3 separate regions of the Homo sapiens genome follow, and all the other regions are linked to region 2. Evidence: fine-mapped expression QTL. A gene starts in region 2. Each other region holds a variant in brackets. All regions are shown on one strand. Distances are from middle to middle.

What was found. PIP is the estimated chance that this variant, and not a neighbour inherited with it, causes the effect.
Region 1: its variant is the best candidate, but not a certain one, in a credible set for the expression of NCOA3 in monocytes after Pam3CSK4 (Quach 2016, PIP 0.88).
Region 3: its variant is the best candidate, but not a certain one, in a credible set for the expression of NCOA3 in stomach (GTEx, PIP 0.63).

What each region holds. Positions count from the first base shown.
Region 1 is chr20:47,475,325-47,481,966 of GRCh38, reverse strand. It overlaps the pseudogene RPL35AP. Among named protein-coding and RNA genes, the nearest start is that of NCOA3, 23 kb to the left of the region's middle. RefSeq lists enhancers at 1,205-1,757, 1,758-2,311. The variant G/TG (reference allele first, on the strand shown) is at 3,030.
Region 2 is chr20:47,498,287-47,504,928 of GRCh38, reverse strand. It overlaps NCOA3 (nuclear receptor coactivator 3), which reads right to left and starts at 3,042. Exons shown (of 23, transcript NM_181659.3): 1 at 2,910-3,042. RefSeq lists a silencer at 2,683-2,802 and a cis regulatory region at 4,054-4,126.
Region 3 is chr20:47,649,346-47,655,758 of GRCh38, reverse strand. It overlaps NCOA3 (nuclear receptor coactivator 3), which reads right to left. Exons shown (of 23, transcript NM_181659.3): 20 at 4,483-4,777; 21 at 3,179-3,353; 22 at 2,687-2,828; 23 at 1-2,353. The coding sequence ends at 2,342. Among named protein-coding and RNA genes, the nearest start is that of SULF2, 130 kb to the left of the region's middle. RefSeq lists an enhancer at 6,171-6,413. The variant G/A (reference allele first, on the strand shown) is at 3,987.

The DNA of each region.
Region 1 (6,642 bases), 23 kb after region 2:
ATCTGACTTGCATTTTCCAACGATAACCCCTGTGACTGTGTGGGGAGTTGGGTCAAGACTGGGAGAGGATACCAGATGAGAAGTGGCTGCGGTATTCTAGGCGAGAGGGGATATGAGCTTGGGCTAAGACGATGTAGGAGAAAGGATGGGGGTTCAGGGTATATGTTGAAGCTAGACAAGAAAAACTTCAAAACAGATTAGATGTGGACAGCAAGAGAAAGTAGAGAATTGAACCCCTGGGAAGTGGACATTTTTAGGTTTTGTGGGTGACTTCATGTCTATAACTTGCTTTATGATACTTCAATATAATCAGTTTGTTTGTTTTTGTTTTTTGAGACAGTCTCGTCTCACTGTGTCACCCAGGCTGGAGTACAGTGGTGGGATAATGGCTCACTGCAGCCTCGATCTCTCTGGCTCAATCTATCCTCCCACCTCAGCCTCCTAAGTAGCCGGGACTACTGGCGCACACCACCAAACCTGGCTACTTTTGTATTTTTTGTAGAGACGGGGTTTTGGCCAGGCATGGTGGCTCATACCTGTAATCCTAGCACTTTTGGAGGACAAGGCAGGCGGATCGCTTGAGCTCAGAAATTCAAGACCAGCCTGGGCAACATAATGAGACTCCATCTCTACTAAAAATACCAAAAAATAGCCAGCATGGTGGTGCACACCTGTAGTCCCAGCTACTCGGGAGGCTGAGGTGGGAGGATTGCTTGAGCCTGGGGGAGAAGGTTGCAGTGAGCAACCTGCAGTGAGATTGCACCACTGCACTCCAGCCTGAGTGACAGCGCAAGATCCTGTCAATAGAAAAATAAAGGAAATAAAGGAAAGAAAGGAAAAGAAGAAAGGAAGGAAGGAAGGAAGGAAAGAAGGAAGGAAGGAAGGCAAAGAAGGAAAGAAAGAAAGAAAGAAAAAGAAAGAAAGAAAGGAAGGAAGGAAGGAAGGAAGGAAGGAAGGAAGGAAGAAAGAGAAAGAGAGAGAGAGGAGGGGAGGGAGGGAAGGAAGGAAAGAGAGAAAGAAGGAAGGAGGGAAGGAAGAAAGGAAGGAGGAAGAAAGGAAAGAAGGAGGAAGGAAGGAAGAAAGGAGGGAAGGAAGGAAAGGAAGGAAGAAGAGCTGAGAATTTGTATTTCTTTCTTTCTTTCTTTCTTTCTTTTTATGATGGGGTTTCACCATGTTGCCCAGGCTGGTCCTGAACTCCTGAGCTCAAGCAATCTGCCAGCTTCAGCCTTCCAAAGCTCAAGGTGTGAGCCACTGCACCCAGCCTAATCAGTTTGACATTATATAAATGTCAGTTTAAGCCAATGATTTTTTTGTTTTGTTTTCTTTTAACATACAGGGTCTCCCTCTGTTGTTGCCCAGGCTGAAGCGCAGTGGTGTGATTATAGCTCACTGCAGCCAAATTCCTGGGCTCAAGCCATCGTCCTGCCTCAGCCTCTCAAGTAGTTAAGACTACAGGTGCATGCTACCATGCCTGGCTACTTTTTAAATTTTTAGTAGAGATGAGGTCTTGCTGTGTTGTCCAGGCTGGTCTCCAACTTCTGGCCTCAAGGGATCCTCCTGCCTTGGCCTCCCAAAGTGCTGGGATTACAGACACAAATCACAACACCCAGCTCCCAGTGATTCTCTAAGTGTTATCTGTGGGCCAGAATCACTTGATTAGATTAGATTAGGTTAGGTTAGAAATACGAATTCTCGCTGGCACTGCGGGTCACGGCTGTAATCCCAGCATTTTGGGAGGCGGGTGGATCACAAGGTCAGGAGATCAAGACCATCCTGGCTAACATGGTGAAACCCCGTCTCTACTAAAAATACAAAACATTAGCTGGGCATGGTGGCACACGTCTGTAGTCCCAGCTACTTGGGAGGCTGAGGCAGGAGCATTACTTGAACCCAGGAGCCAGAGGTTGCAGTGAGCCGAGATCGCACCACTGCACTCCAGCCTGGACAACAGAGTGAGACTCGTCTCAAAAAAAAAAAAAAAAAGAATGTAGAATACAAAGATAATTAACCACCACTTAACAGTAATGGCCACATCAGCAAACTAAAATAGAAGTAAATTCCAGAATGTTTTGGAGACAGGTAAGAAACAAAGGGAGTGTTCTCAACAATGGAACCTTATCAGAAAAAGGGAAGCAATGCTAGACTTGTCTGGAACAGCCTCTTCTAGGTGTGGTTCCCCAGAGCCCTGGGAAAAACAGGCCTTATCTTGAAAAGAGGAAGGATTGGATGCAAGGAAGTTTGAAGCAAACAATGGCAGTTCAGGCCTTGTTGGAGAGAACTGAGTTGTGTGCAAAAGTAATAAGGGAAAAAGGCTTTTTAAAGCAGAATTCTGACCACAGAAGGCATGCTGTAGGTGGGGGGAGGAAAAAGTTTGTTTCTAAGAACAGAGAAGACAGAAGAACACATAGGTACAGACAGACAAGGAGACCAGGATTAGAGTCTGGGGTCACCAACTAAAAGGCACATATGACCTTGGGCAAGGGATTTCACCTTCACATTTTAGTATTTCACAATTTTCCCCCTCTAAGAAGTTAGACTCTCAGCTGCCGTAAATTTAAAAATCATTCCCTAAGGCCTTTCTCTTTCTACCATCTTGGAGCCTGTCTGCTTGACAGGGCCTTTTTTTTTTTTCTTTTGAAACAAGGTCTCACTCCATCGCACGGGCTGGAGTGCAGTGGTGCGATCATAGCTCACTGTAACCTAGAGCATCCCAGGATCAAGTGATCCTCTAACCTCAGCCTCCTCAGTAGCTGAGAACACAGGTGCATGCCACCACACCTAGCTAACTTTTTTTAGTGTTTTGTAGAGATGGGATCTCCTTATGTTATATTTAGAGACCCAGGCTGGTCTCTAAATCCTAGGCTCAAGGGATCTTCTCGCCTTGGCCTATCAAAGTGCTGGGATCACTGACATGAGACACCCTGCCCAACCAGGACAGGACTTCTAAAAGGCAGATATGTCTGGAAGGCTGTGGTCTAAGGCCATTTTTCCTTTTTTCCTTTTACTTTTTTTTCTTTTTTTTTTTTTTT[G/TG]ACACGGACTTTCACTCTGTCACCCAGGCTGGAGTGCAATGGCACAATCTCGGCTTACTGCAACCTCCGCCTCCTGTGTTCAAGTGAGTCTCCTGCCTCAGCCTCCCGAGTAGCTGGGATTACAGACATGTGACACCACACCCAGCTAATTTTGTATTTTTAGTAGAGACGGGGTTTCACTATGTTGGTCAGGCTGGTCTCAAACTCCTGACCTCAGGTGATACACCCGCCTCGGCCTCCCAAAGTGCTGGGATTACAGGCGTGAGCCACTGCACTTGGCTTTATTTTCTTTTTATTGTAGAGACACGGTCTCACTATGTTGACCAGCCTGGTCTTGAATTACTGGCCTCGGGTGATCCTCCTGCCTAGGCCTCCCAAAGTGCTGAGATTACAAGCATGAACCACTGGGCCTGGACCCAAGGCCACTTTTGCTGGCTATAAGCAGGGTCTCTTGAACCAAAGGGAGTACACAGCTCTTCTTAACATTGAAGGCATTTATGCCTGAGATGAAACTGAATCCTATTTGGGCAAGAGATGCGCTTATGCATACAAAGCAAAGAACAGGACAGTGACTCCCGGCAGCAAACTGAACAAAACCAGAGTGATGTGAGGAAAGGTAACTCAGACCCATGGAATTATGGGCATAGTTCATGCCAAATTCTGAAACAATCTTCCTGCTAAGGCCACTGGACAAAGATTCCATGTGATGTTATACCCCTCTTAAATAAATGAAAAGTAAATAAATAAAAAATATATATTTTTTGGAGATGGAGTTTCACTCTTGCTGCCCAGGCTGCAGTGCAATGGCGTGATCTCAGCTCACCGCAACCTCTGCCTCCCCAGTTCAAGCGATTCTCCTGCCTCAGCCTCCCAAGTAGCTGGTATTACAGGCACCGACCACCGCACCTGGCTAATTTTTTGTATTTTTAGTAGAGATGGGGTTTCACCATGTTGCCCAGGCTGGTCTGGAACAACTGACCTCAGGTGATCCACCTGCCTCGGCCTCCCAAAGTGCTGGGATACAGGCGTGAGCCACCATGCCCGGCTAAAAGTAAATTTATTAAAACGTAGTATAATAAAAATCATTCCCCAAGAAGGACACACACAATATCACTTTTATAGTATTTTTGCCAAAAATATTCAACCTGAATCTAAACCTGTGGATACAATCAGACAAGTTCAAATTGGAGGTGTTGAAAAAGCTGAACTGCAAAATATTTAAAGAGGTTTATTCTGAGCCAAATATGAGTGATGATGGCTAGCAGAAGACTTTTTTTGGGGGGATGGGTGGGGGGCAGGGTCTTGCTCTGTCATCCAGGCTGGAGAGCAGTAGCATAATCTCAGCTCACTGCAACCTCCACCTCCCGGGCTCAAGCAATCCTCCCGTCTCAGCCTCTGGAGTAGCTGAGACTGCAGGTGTGCACTACCACACCCAGCTAATTTTTTAATTAATTAATTTTATTATTATTTTATTTTTTTATTTTGAGACAGAGTGTCCCTCTGTCATCCAGGCTGGAGTGCAGTGGTGCGATCTCGGCTCATTGTAACCTCTGCCTCCTGGGTTCAAGCAATTCTTCTGCCTTAGCCTCCCGAGTAGCTGGGACTACACGTGCACGCCACCATGCCCGGCTAAGTTTTGTATTTTTAGTAGAGACAGGATTTCACAATATTGGTCAGGCTGGTCTCAAACTCCTGACCTCAGGCAATCCACCCACCTTGGCCTCCCAAAGTGCTGGTATTACAGGTGTGAGCCACTGCGCCTGGCCTAATTTTTTATTTTTTGTAGAGACAGGGTTTCACCATGTTGGCCAGGCTGGTCTCAAACTCCTGACCTCAGGTGATCTGTCTACCTCCGCCTCCCAGAGTACTGGGATTACAGGCATAAACCACCGCACCCGCCCTTTGAGGTTGGTTTTATACATTTTAGGAGGACATAAGATATCAATGAATACATGTGAGGTGTATCGGTTCAGTCCAGAAAGGTGGACCAACTCAAAGTAAGCGAGGGTATTTACAGGTAACAAGTGGTTTCAAAGATTTTCTGATTGGCAATTGGCTGAAAGTTAAGTTACTATCTAGAGATCTAGAATCAAAAGAAAGGAGTGTCTGGGTTACAATAAGGGGCTATGGAGACCAAGGTTTGTATGAAGTAGATGAAGTCTCATAGGTGGCTGCCCTTTGAGACAATAGAGGACAAATGTTTCCTATTTGTTGGGCGGGCATGGTAACTCATGCCTGTAGTCCTAGCACTTCGGGAGGCCAAGGCAAGAGGATCACTTGAGCCCAGGACTTCAAGACCAGCCAGGGCAACAGAGTGAGACCCCATCTCTATAATTTTTTTTTAATGTTTTCTATTTAGACCTTTACAGGATGCTAGATTCTCAGTTAATCTCACCAGGATTTGGAGAGCCTGGAAGATGAAAAATCTAGTTATATTCATAGAAATTCTTTACAATGCAAATTTTCCCCCACAAAAGAAGCCTTTGTAGGGCCGTTTTTTTTTTTTTTCGTAATGGGTTGAGGGGAGGGGGAGAAAGGAGGAGGCTCCTGGGGCCATTTCAATATGTGGCAAGGTAACTTTTTTTTTCTTTTTTTCCTTTTTGAGACAGAGTGTTGATCTGTCGCCCAGGCTGGAGAAAGAAATAACCATAAAAATAGCCAATCAGCAGCCCATGCTACTGCTGTGCCTATGAAGTAGCCATTCTTTCATTCCTTTACTTTCTTTTTTTTTTTTTTTTTTTTTTGAGATGGAGTCTCATGCTCTCTCTCAGGCTGGAGTACAGCGGCGCAATCTTGGCTCACTGCAGCCTCTGCCTCTCTGGTTCAAGCAATTCTCCTGCCGCAATCTCCCGAGTAGCTGGGATTACAGGCAAGTACCACCACACCTGGCTAATTTTTATCTATTTTTTGGTAGAGACAAGGTTTCGCCATGTTGGCCAGGCTGGTCTTGAACTCCTGACCTCAGGCGACCCACCCACCTTGGCCTTCCAAAGCACTGGATTACAGGCATGAGCCACTACCCAGGGCTGAAATGTTGCTTTTTTTGGTCTTTGTTTTGTGGCTGGGTGGGGTGGTGCACACCTGAATCCTGACTACTTGGGAGACTGAGGCAAGAGTATCCCTTGAGAAGTTCAAGGCTGCGGTGAGCTATGATTGCACCACTGCACTCTTGTCTGGGTAACAGAGTGAGACCTTATCTCAAAAAATGAATGAATATATCTTTGTCTTTTGAAATCTACCCTCTCCTTCCAAGTCTGGGTCAGGGACTAGTTGGACTAGGGTGACTGATTTCTCTCCGTTTGCCCAACAGAGTCTCACTCTGTTGCCCAGGCTAGAGTGCAGTGGTGTGATCTCAGCTCACTGCAACCTCTGCCTCCTGAGTTCAGCTGATTCTCTTGCCTCAGCCTAGTGAGTAGCTGGGATTACAGGCATGTGCCATGACACCCAGCTAATTTTATTTATTTTTTTTGAGACAGAGTATCACTCTGTCACCCAGGCTGGGGTGCAGTGGAGTGATCTCAGTTCGCTGCAACCTCTGCCTCCTGGGTTCAAGCGATTCTCCTGCTTCAGCCTCTCAAATAGCTGGGATTACTGAAATGCGCCATCAAGCCTG
Region 2 (6,642 bases):
TTGTCCAAACTAAAATTTATTTTTTAATTTTCTTTTAAAGACTTTTCAATTACAGTACTCCAAGTTAAAATGAATTATTCCAGAATCATACTGCTAATGCACAAGACAGAATTTTTTTTTTTTTTGAAACAGAGTCTCATTCTGTTGCCCAGGCTGGAGTGCAGTGGTGCAATCTCGGCTCACTGCAACCTCCGCCTCCCGGGTTCAAGCCATTCTTCTGCCTCAACCTCCTGAGTAGCTGGAACTACAGGTGCTCGCCACCACGCCCGGCTAATTTTTTGTATTTTTAGTAGTGAAGGGGTTTCACCATCTTTGCCAGGCTGTTCTCAAACTCCTGACCTCGTGATCCACCAGCCTTGGCTTCCCAAAGTGCTGGGATTACAGGCCTGAGCCACTGCAGCCCGGCAGAAAGAACTGAATTCGTTAAAAAAAAAAAAAAAAAAAAAAAAAGACACACTTAGCTTTTATCTTTAATGTAATGTCCCTGCAAGAAAGCTTATTTCAAAAGACCAGTCAAGAAGACATTAGTAAGCAACCATTTTTAAACTACTTTTTATTTGCATATCGCCTAGAAAAAGGGTCTCACGTACAACAGTACTTCACTCCTTACTGAATTCTATTTTATTTGCTCGGGAGGTGCGTGGCACTTTTTAGAAATAATTTTTATACAGAGAAGGAAATGCACAGCATAATCATTTTCAAAATACAGTTAAATTATTTAATATAATCTTTAATAACCTAGCTCTAATATCACTGAATTTCCTTAGCAAATTGTTAGTGTTGGCAAGCTGTTAAAACAACCATTCTAAAATATAAAAATATAAATCTCGCTATTGATGCTTAAGTTGTACATTTTCAAAGCCTTTGTAATTAAATATCTTATGGCAGAAATATTTCCTATAACTGCTCTAGAAATATTACAGCCTCCCGCTTAGTCCACAATCCCCATCTTCTATATGCCAAAAGCTGGTATATGCCTCTTATTTCAAATGCTGATTGGACAATTAAGTCATTTCCATCTATACATAAAATGCCCCTATAATTTAGGATCACAGGCAATTTAGATTTCTGCTCATTGAAATGCAGAACCTGAAGCAACCTCTAGTGACAGGAGCTATAGTGTTCAATATCATTTTACATGTTACAAGCAGAGGATTCATTGTACATACAAACAATGAACCCTGGCAGAGTTCTTTATCCTAAAGCCCCACAGATTGTTATTTAACGGTATTAATAGATAAGGTGACATAAGCAGTAAGTTCTGAAGAGCTTTTTCCAATAGCTATCAACATTTTTTTTAAGAGAGCAAAAACAGTATTCCCACATTTTCTGTTTCTTCTGTTCATTTTATTTCCCTGCTTTTGGTATCCAACAGAAGTGGTTTCAAATGAAAATCTTAAAATAATTATTCCAAAGACCAAGGATATTCTAAAAACCAGTAACAGTCTTTGCCTCTGAGAAGGGGAAACTGTAGGGTTTGGCGTGAAAGAGAGATTCACTTTTCAATGTGTTTGTACCTTTCCAATTGGATATCATTCGGTAGAACCATATTCTAAATGAGCATACATTTAAAATATTTTCAAGAACAAACAATTCACAAACTTACAGGTTTCCATTAACATTTTCGTTTGTGCAGCATTCGCTGAAGACCTAAGATTTTTATTCCTCCAATCACCTTCTCAACAACCTGCTGCAACAAATACTGAAGCTTTTTTGCAGCCAGGGATCAGTTAGGTGGATCCGAGGCCAGGCATTTAAATCAAAGAGATGCAGCAATCTTACTCAATACTACTACCACTCTCACGCATCTCATTCAACTCCATTTAAAACCACTGCAGCAAGACAGCTGGTACTCTCCTTCCTGTTTCTTTACCGTACAGGCTTAATAACAAAAACAGGTTGGTTTTGAAGCCCTGCTCAAATATTGCAAAAAGGAAGTCTTCGCATTCGGGAGGGGGAAAAAAGTTTCGACTTCGAGAGAATCTCATAGCTTCCGTGTCATTCCATTTGGGAATCCCAGATCCTGCCAGTGAGGTAGATGCTCGCTCTCTCGGTTAACTTTTCCACCCTAGATGCCCTCAAACTGCCTAGGAAGCAACTAAGTCTCCCAACGACCCATGGCTAGTTTTGTTAAGGCAGGTACAAGACAAGCAGTTTATTTAAACCATGACGAACTGGGTCGATGTTCATAAAATGAGAGATGGGGAGAGCAAAAAAAAAAAAAAAGTAGTAATAAAGACAGCCAAACTCCTAATTTTATCAACCAACTTCCCACTTGCCATTTCCCAGCCTTCACACCAGAGGTAGTAAAACGCCTTTTTACCGAGAAAACTAAGAAGCTACCCGAGCCCAACATGAAAATTCCGCGGACAATTCGTGTTAAAATATTTTTTAAATGCCCAAGTGAGGAGGAAACACAGCAACCAAATCTCACCCGGCTGGGAGGCTGGGGTGGGGGGGGTCCCCGCGGCTTTTCCCTCCCGTGCGTCCCAGAAGCTGCTAAGGAGCCGGGGCAGCAGGAGGACGACGCGGGGAGCTTTCAAAAGGGCTGGGGGAGGCAAGAGGAAGAAAAAACTTTAGGGACAGAAGGGGAAAGTGGGCCCCTGCAGTCCCCCCGCAAACTCCTCGGGTGACCCCTCCGCGCGGGGACCCCCTCGGATCCCCAAGCGGACTGCCACCCAGCTTCGTCTCAGCTCCTACCGCCGCGGGCCGCCCCCCGGGCTGAGGGGAAGCGGCGCGGCCCCGACACCCCGAAACTACCTCAGCGCGTCCCCCGGCCGGCGCGCCCCTCAGTGCCTTGGCAGATCTGAAGCCGCTGGCTCTCGCAGCCTGGGGAACTCGCCCCTCTTCCCTCCGCCTCGCACTCCACCCCCTCGCCCGCCACCGCCTCCTCCTTTATCTCCACTCACCTCCCGCCGCCATTTTCCTCGCAGCTCAGCTTTAAATCGGAAACTCGCCGCTCAGCCCGCAGCCGCCGCCGGCCGCCACCGACTAAGCCGCAGCCGCTGCCGTCGCTGTGGAGCGGCTGAGACAGCAGCAGCTAAAGTCGCCGCACGGGGGCCACTGGGATATGTAGTCCCGAGGCCACGCCCAGCACTACCGGTCCCAGGGGGCCTTGCGCGGCCGGCCTAGGGTTCCAGCGACCCCCACCCTGGCTTCCGCGGCGGAGGGCGTGGCGACGTGGGCTCGTGCGGCCGCTTTCGCCCAGCATCGACTGGGAGCTCCCTCGGGATCCGGAGAACCGGAATGCAGTCCTAGCCCTGCCCTTAATTTTTTTCATATTTGCCTTCGTCCAGTAATACCTAACATTTGTGGAGCGTTTCTGGTATGCCAAGCACGGATCCTCAAAACAAGCATCCGGTAGGGACCATGATCATCCTCATTTTTCAGATGAGCGAACTGAGGCACAAGGTCGGAAGCCACGAGGCTGTTCCTTAGCTGCTAAAGTCACTGGGTGAAATGTTGTTGGGCAGCAGTATATTCAGGGTATATTTAGTCCCGAAGTATCATCCCACAGCGTATTTATGACTTACAATAAAGAACAGCTTGCTTTACAATGGAAAGATCTGGCAGGCACCCCCTTACCAAGTGATCGAACTTAGCACCACCAATAATGGGTCAGGACTGTTGTTATGTGTCTCCTAATATGATGCAGTGGGGAAAGCATATTGCTACCTCTGTCGTATTCTTGCCACATACACACAAAAAGCTTACTTGAAAAAATAAACGAATTCAGAATGTGGGACATTCTACACAACATCTAGCCTGGAGTCTTTTAAAATATGACAGCATGAAAGAGGTGAAAACCAAAAGCAATAGGTGAGACTTGATTGGATTCAGGATGATTTTTTTATGTAAAAAGAATTTGGGGGGCAATTTCAATGTGGACTGTATGTTAGATAATATTGAGTCAGTATTAGATGTGTTGAGTGTAAATAAAATAGAATAATCTGACCACTTACCACCTCCACGGTCAGCACCATCATTTCCCACCTGGACCACTGCAACAGCCTCCTCAGTGTTCTGCCTGCTTCCACTCTTTCCTCTTAGAGTCTATACTCAACACAGCAGCCAGAGGAATCCTGGTAAGAACCAAGTCAGTCTCTGTCCCTCCTGCAAAATTCTTGCAGTAACCTGCAAAGCCCCATACAGCCCGTCTCTTGCCCTGCCCTTCCCTCTCTAAACTCATCACCTTCTTCTCTTCCACTCACTTCTGTAACTCAGCTACAATGGACTCGGCCTCTCCAACGTGCTTAGCACACTCTGGCCTTAAAGATCGTGCACTTGCTATTTCCTCTGCCTAGAACAGTATTTTCCCAGAAAATTCAAATAACCCATTCCCTAATCTCCCCATGGTCATTGTCCAAATGTCACTTATTCAGTGAGGCTTTCCCTAACTGCTCTATTTTAACTTCCTGCCCACTCTGATCCCAGCTTTCCCTACTCCTATTCCTTTCTTCATTTATTTTCAGAGCATGAATTATCATTAAAATCATGATATATTTCTGTTTACTTATGTTATTTAAAATATCTCATTTTGGCTGGGCGCGGTGACTCACGAATGTAATCCCAGCACTTTGGGAGGCCAAGGCAGGCAGATCACCTGAGGTCGGGAGTTCAAGACCAGCCTGACCAATATGGAGAAACCCCGTCACTACTAAAAATACATAATTAGCTGGGCATGGTAGCACATGCCTGTAATCCGAGCTACTCAGGAGGCTGAGGCAGGAGAATCACTTGAACCTGGGGGCAGAGGTTGCGGTGAGCCGAGATGGCACCATTGCACTCCAACCTGGGCAACAAGAGTGAAACTCCGTCTCAAAAAAAAAAAAAGTAAAAATTAAAAAATTAAATATCTCATTTCTGGGCCGGGCACGGTGGCTCACACCTGTAATCCCAACACTTTGGGAGGCCAAGGTGGGCAGATCACCTGAGGTCAGAAGTTCCAGACCAGCCTGCCCAACATGGCGAAACCCCGTCTCTACTAAAAATACAAAAGATTAGCTGGGCATGGTGGCAGGCGCCTATAATCCTGGCTACTCGGGAGGCTGAGGCAGGAGAATCACTTGAACCCGGGAGGCAGAGGTTGCAGTGAGCCGAGATCGCGCCACTGCACTCCAGCCTGGGCCACAAGAGCGAAACTCTGTCTCAAAAAAATATATATATATATATTTCCACCAGGGCACAGTGGCTCAGGCCTGTAATCCCAACACTTTGGAAGGCCGAGAGATTGCTTGAGCCCAGGAGTTCAAGACCAGCCTTGGCAACAAAGCAGATACCCAGTCTCTACAAAAAATTTTAAAATTAGCTTGGTGTGGTGGCGCCTGCTTGTATTCCCAAGTACTCAGGAGGCTGAGGTGGGAGGATTGCCTGAGTAGGGGAGGTCAAGGCTGCAGTGAGCCATGCTTGCACCACTGCACTCCAGCCTGGGCGACAGAGTGAGACTCCATTTCAAATATATATATATATAAAATAAAAATAATAAAATAAAATACTGCGTTAGATGCTGAGAACCCAGAGATGAAATGCTCACACGTGTATGGCCTTTCACCTCAGCAACTGCACCTGTCTCCTAGCTACTCTCCTTGCTTCTCTCCCTTTCATCCTCTACAGGGCACTCCCAATACAGTAGCCAGAGGGATCCTTGAAAAATCATGTATTAAATCATGTTACTTCCAACCTAGGCCGGGTACGGTGGCTCACGCCTGTAATTCCAGCACTTTGGGAGGGCAAAGCAGGCAGATCACTTGAGGTCAGGGTTTTGAGGCCAGCCTGACCAATATAGTGAAACCCTGTCTCTACTAAAAATACAAAATTAGCTGGGCATGGTGGCACACACCTGTAGTCCTAGCAACTTGGGAGGCTGAAGCAGGAGAATCTCTTGAACCCAGGAGGCAGAGGTTGCAGTAAGCCAAGATCATGCCACTGCACTCCAGCCAGGGCAACAAGAGCGTAACTCCATCTCAAAAACAAAACAAAACAAAACAAAACAAAAAACTTCCAACCTAAACAGCTTCGAATGGCATCCCATTGCATTTGGGATAAAACTCAGACCCTAGTTGGGTGTGGTGGCCCACGCTTCTAGTCCTAGCTACTCAGAAAGCTGAGGTGAGAGGATTGCTTGAGCCCGGAAGTTCGAGGCTGCAGTGAGCCGTAATTGTGCCAGTGCACTCCAACCTGGGTGACAGAGGGAGACCCTGACTCCATTTAAGAAAACAAACTACTCTGACCCTAATTGATTTGGTCTCTGCTCCCCTCCCTGATCTCAGGTGATATATCTCTCCCTATATCTCACCCCATGTCACACTAACATTCCTGAACACACCAAGCATATTCCTGCCTCAGGACCTGTGCACCTGTTGTTCCTTTTGCCTAGAATTTTCTTTCCTCCTGGCTTGCTCTCTATTGCCATTCAAGTCTCTGCTGCAATGTCTCCTTCTCGGATAGAACTTCTAAAGCACTAAACACACACACAGGCACAAACACAGTCATATCACCCTGCTTTGTCTTCACAATGATTCATACCATACACCATCTGAATTTTTTTAGAAATTTTTTTTTTTTAGATGGAGTTTCACTCTTGTTGCCCAGACTGGAGTGCAATGGCGTGATCTCGGCTCACCACAACCTCCGACTCCCGGG
Region 3 (6,413 bases), 150 kb before region 2:
TTTAAAGTCAAGAAAGATAAGAGCACCATTCTATTTCTCCCCACACACATAACTTAAAGAAGGGTCAGATACAATTGAGCTGAAAAAGAGACAGACTGACCTGGTTCTTCCTCTGTCTCCAAACAGGAGAGTATACTATCTGAAAAGCACAGGCCACTACAATGGAAGTTTTCGGATTTACAATCTTTCTTAGATATATTTTGAACTTGGTAGGGGAAAGAGGGCAAACTCATAATTGTCTATACTGCTTTGAAAATAAGATCCACTCTGGTGGTGGGTCTGGAAATAATCAGGATTCACTTACTCGTAAGCATATCAAAGATATTAAATGATCTTACCTTCAGAGACATCTAGAAAGATTGGCTAAATGTGTGAAATTCTTAAAATTAACTGGCTCTCAGTTATTGCTAGAAAATGATACCAAGGCTAGCAGAGACCTCTGAAATTCACAGACATTCAGAAACCCAATTCCGTCAACTATTTGAACCAAATGAATTAACCCAGATAAAGGGAATTAAACTTGATTTTTCCCTTCCTCCCAACTGACTAAAACAGGTGTCAAAGAGAGGCAACAGCAGAAAAGTGGTAGGGGGCAGAAGAGGGAGGGGTTTAAAAGGTGCTCAGTTAGACTGTGGCTCTGAATCACAGTAAAACTGGCTGTTCTGGGTACTGAGTTACTTAAGAAATAACTGACACTATTCTAATCCACAGGGACATAATGAAAGCATCACATTAGTAGAATGAGGGGACAGCTGAGCAGACACCAGAAACCACACCAAGGATTCTACTCGAGATCTCAATATGGGATTCAGGTCTTAGCAACCAAAATCTGAAAACGCTCCTAAAGGGGATGAAAAGGTAACATAATTAAACATACACACACACACACACACATACACACACACACACAGCCCATGAATTGCTATTATTTCGGACTGCTTAAAATCCAAAAGATTCTCTTCAAATTGCTCGTTTTTTTAAATTCCTGATTTTTTTTTAAGTTTATTTCCCCATATCTATTCTTTCCCCCCAAATTAACAAAGTGCTTAGTTCTGGTAGAGGAATTTTTAAAAAATTAAAATGCCTACATCTAAACAAATAATCTCTTTAAAAAGCATTTAGATTAAGAGATTGAAAAGAGCGAGGCATCTAAGGCTGGGGGGTGGGGAAGGAAAAGCTGTGGAGCACTACCCCTCCCCCAGGCCACAAAAGTCAAGGGATGTCTCTTCCACTGGTAGCCTCACCACACAGCTTACTGAAATCAACAATGTTAAATATTTAGCTTCACAAACTCTGTAAAAATGAGTTGTTGTGACCTACAAAAAAAGGTATATACATATTTTACATAATACAATATCTTAAAGGTCATATTTACAAAAAAATCTATTCACAGAAACACTGCGAGATTCTGATTCAGAATGCAGTACCTGGCCTTGGGTTTTCAGAAGTTTATTTTTAAAAAGCATTATTGCTCTACCATATAGGCAAAGGGTGACACCAGTACTTTAAAAAAAAAAATCATAGTTCTTGTCTAACACGTAAGTGTAGGCAAAAACCAGGAATGTGTTTCACTATTCCCTCAAGACCTCAAGAATATTGCATTTATCCATTCTTTTTAAATAAAGTGCACTCAGCTGCACATTAGCATGTGAAAAGTTTGCTACTGCTGCGATTAAATACTGTCATCTCATTTCCTTTCTGCAAAGCCATTTGGACATCCATGACAGTTCCTGGAGGTGAAGTATTACAGGACATGAATGGCAAATGAAAACCTTCATTAGGAGAAAGCCTAGGGCAAATAATAGGGACAGAGCAACTCAACACCATTAGTAAAGGACAATTCAGAATCACCAATTCCACTGGACAAAGGGTCAACACAGAACTACTACACCTGAAGGCTGGGACTATGCTCTTTGTCCAATACTGCAACTAGAGAAACCAGATATTCTAATCTCTCTTGATTCTTCCAATGTTCTCTGGCCCACCTACGTGTATTTAAGAGATTTTGGCTAGCAAGGCAGAAAAAAGTGACACAAAAGTTTTATGATCAGTAACACTCCATGTCTCCAGAATTATATCCCTAGGAGGTGGAATGCCAAAAAACATTTCTGTTTTGAACACCATGATACACAGCAGAAGGAGGGGGGAAAAACACGTAGATATTGCCCTTCGGCTTAAAATCCAGTCCTGCTCAAATGACATCACTTAAAATACCCTTGATGGAGCTCAAAGCTGGTCCTTTCTTCCAAGATGGATGCCTGGAACAATGATTCCTTCCCAATAATCCTAGTGCAGTGTCATTTGTACAGTGGTTTCCTTAAGAGGTCCTGGTGCAGAGATGTCAGCAGTATTTCTGTCAGCAACCAGGAAAAAAAAAAAAAAAAAAAAAATGAGTAAAACACATGCTTTGCACAACAAAAAAATACCCATGTCCACATTCATGGCTTACAGTGCAGCTCTGGCTGAGTGATTCAGGTTCCTGAGATCCCATCTTACAATGCAGCTCTGGCTTACCAAAAGTATCTAATGGCCCAATGCCTTCAAACCAAGTTTTTTCAATTACTATATTTTAAGTTATACATTCAAGTTAAAATATACCTAGGACATTCTGATTATAGCCTAGGCTTTAGTTCTATCCAGAGAACAAGAAAAACTTTTTGAAAAAGGTAAGGAATCGATCCCATACCTGATCAGGACCCATAGGCATGCCAGACATGGGCATGGGGTTCATGTTCATCTGTCCCATGTGACCACTGCTGCCATTCATGTGCACCATACTATACACTGCAGGATTCCCCTGGTGGGCAAACTGCTGCTGGGAAAAGGAGCTGTAAGTAAACAAATGGTAATATTACCTCTGGAAGTCACTTTAGCGACAAAGGGCATGCCCACAGAAATTACTACAATTGTGTCAAACATTGCTATACTTAAGCTGGGAATGTTAGAGAAAACTCCCTGACAGCCTGTGATCCATTTTTCACAGCTTTCTGTACTAGACACCCTAATAGATATGTGCGTGCTTGAAGGACTCTCAAAATGGACAAGCCAAATCACACCTTCTAATATGAACCCAGTCCTTTCAACCTCTCCATCCAAAAAGGCTTGACTGAAAAATACATTAAGTTCTTGGACTTCTGGGACTAGGATGTGACTAACTTTATAAGTCACTGTTCTTTACCTGTTCCTGGCCAAATTTCCTGATGGCCAGCCCTTCATTTCTGAGGACTGATAGATGGATGCAGCCTGCGGGTGTTGCATCATGGGATTCTGGGAGGGACCCATTCTTGACGACATCATTGCATTGGGAGGACTAGACACTCGACCAAAGGCTGGATCTGGTTGTTGTCCCATTCCTTACAAAAATAAAACAGAAGAAATAAAAATGCCCAAATGCCTTCTCCTTAGAATATCAGATTTCTGTAGTAATTTTGTTTTTTTTTTAAAGGAGGTGGGGGTGGAGGGAAGTGATAAGTGTAAGATACAGAGTGCTATAAGATGCTGCCCCCCCAGGTATTCTAGATTCTCACCAAGATGACGACTAGAGTAACAGGCTTACTACAGAAAGGAGCACCATCTGGATCACTGAAAGATCAGTTGCTTTAATGGGTTTCCTGTAGAAAAGGGACTCCGTATCACTCAACTCACATCACTCCATCCTTCTTTAAAGGGCAGGGGAGTTATAATCCTCAGATGACAGGGCTCCCCAATAGACACCTTTATTCCCACCATGTTCCTGGAACCTCTCAAAGGCTGAAATGAAGAGGTATCTGCATCACTGTAATAATAAATCCAGGGCCGGGCACGGTGACTCACGCCTGTAATCCCAGCACTTTGGGAGGCCGATGCAGGCAGATCACGAGGTCAGGAGATCGAGACCATCCTGGCTAACACAGTGAAACCCCGTCTCTATTAAAAATTTAAAAAAAAAAACAGCCGGGGGTGGTGGAATGCACCTGTAGTCCCAGCTACTCAGGGCTGAGGCAGGA[G/A]AATCACTTGAACCCGGGAGGCAGAGGTTGCAGTGAGCCAAGATCGCACCACTGCACTCCAACCTGGGTGACAGAGCAAGACCCCCATCTCAAAAAAAAAATAATAAATCCAAGTCACCAAGAAAATCAACTTAAAAGCCCACAAAGTGCATTCCTCTCACTGACTTGACCAAGCATTCAGAGATTAGAGAGTTCTACTATACTGGAACATACAAGAAGGGGCAAGGGGACAACTTTGCAGTGTTTCTTCCAGAGTTTGGGGACTCTTAATGAGTGGGACTGAAAAAAATATTCAACTATGACAGGATACACCTGTCTCAATTACCTGTGTGCTGCAGCATTTTTGTTTTCCAATCATTTAAATTAATTTGGTTTTCCTTGTGAAGTAAAGAGGGAGTGAATCGTGTTTTTGTCTTTCATGTGCAATAAATGTAATGAAGCTTATGTCCTTAGTAATGTTAACTTGGGGAAGGCACATTTTCATTGTCAGATTTACCATAATTTGGTTGATATGGAAACTGTTGCGGAGGAGCTTGTGGCATTGTGGGTCCTGCCAAAAGCCCATCCATGCTGGGGGAAGCAGTCACATTAGGAGGTGGGCTGAAGGCCTGGGTTTGCTGCTGTTGCTGCTGTTGCTGTTGCTGTTGCTGTTGCTGCTGCTGCTGCTGCTGCTGCTGCTGTTGCTGCTGCTGCTGCTGCTGCATCATCATAGCCACCCTCTGTTGTCGGAAGTGATGACTTAGCAGCTCTCTGCTGCGTTGGGCGACCATTTGAGCATTAAGAAAACCCTGCTAATACCCAAGAAAGAGTGCAATTACATATATATAGCAAGAACCTGCCAGTTGCATACATATAGTACCCCCACAATACACCAGGTATAAGACAGAAAACACCCAGGGCCTTCTTTTTTTTAACAGGGTCTCACTCTGTCGCCCAGGCTGGAGCGCAGTGGCACAATCTCGCCTCACAGCAACCTTCGTCTCCCAGGTTCAAGTGAGTCTTCTGCCTCAGCCTCCCAAGTAGCTGGGATTACAGGCGTGCACCACCACTCTGGCTAATTTTTGTATTTTTAGTAGAGATAGTGCTTCACCATGTTAGCCAGGCTGGTCTCAAACTCCTAACCTCAGGTGATCCGCCCACCTCGGCCTCCCGAAGTGCTTAAATTACAGGTGTGAGCCACTGTGCCGGCCAAAACATACAATTCTTCACATAAAAGCTTTCTGACCTGGTGCAGTGGCTTACGCCTGTAATCCCAGCACTTTGGGAGGCCAAGGTGGGCGGATCACTTGAGGTCAGGAGTTCGAGACCAGCCTGGCCAAAATGGTGAAACCCTGTCTCTACTAAAAATACCAAAACTAGCCAGCCTTGGTGATGAGCACCTGTAATCCCAGCTACTCAGGAGGCTGAGGCAGGAAAATCCCTTAAACCCAGGGAATTGACGCTGCAGTGAGCCGAGATCGTGCCACTGTACTCCAGCCTGGGCAACAGTGACTCTCAAAAAAAAAAAAAAAAAGCTTTCTGGCTATTGCAAGGGGAGGGAGGGAGAACTGAAGAAGAGGGACCTGAAAATTATTTGGGGTTAAAAGACAAAAGACAACACACTGTCAAGCTTTAACATGACTAGAAACATTCCACAAAGTAAGAAAACATTTAGGGGTGGAATCTGAGGACAAATTTTTCAGGAACTATGAAAGACAATTACAGGAAAATGAGGATTCAGTGTGTTGGGGTGGTGGAGGGCTGAAACATGAAGCCAAAAAAAATAAGATGGGGTTATACTCAGATAAGCAGGGGTCCACCTCAGAAAATCTTGAACTTTCTTTAAACTTTCAGAAAGAGGTAAGGGGCAAGCAGAAGCTATCTGGAGGTTCAGAAGGTGACATAACTGAAGTACAACAAGGAAGCTGATTTCAGCTCTACTAGCTACGGGTCATCTCCAAAAAGCAAGCTTTTATCATCTTTCTGTAGGACATTCTAGCTCAGCTTCCACAAGATGTTTTATTATCAAGAAAATGTAAATATCAGTACTTCCAAGTAGGCATAAGACAATAAAAATCGAGCATTTCACAGTTGCTTTTTAAAAAACAATTATAAACGATATTTCAAATCACAATAGAGGATTGCTGTGTGGTCATCTGCCTCATGCACATTAAAAAAACCCCTCAATACTGTCTCCACCACTGGCTGGAAGTAGAAGGGAATTTTAATATCCCCTCCTACTACAAGAAACAGGTCATCTCAGAGGCTATCACTGAGAACAGGATTATGTATTCTTTATTTTCTTCTTTATAATTTCAGAATTTTACCCAGTGTGCATGTTGTTTCATAATCCAGGAACAGAGGAACATTTACAGATTTATTAAATTCCTAAACAGCCAAGTGATAGCTGTTCTCACAGTACAGCAACTGATCACAAAGGGAACCAAT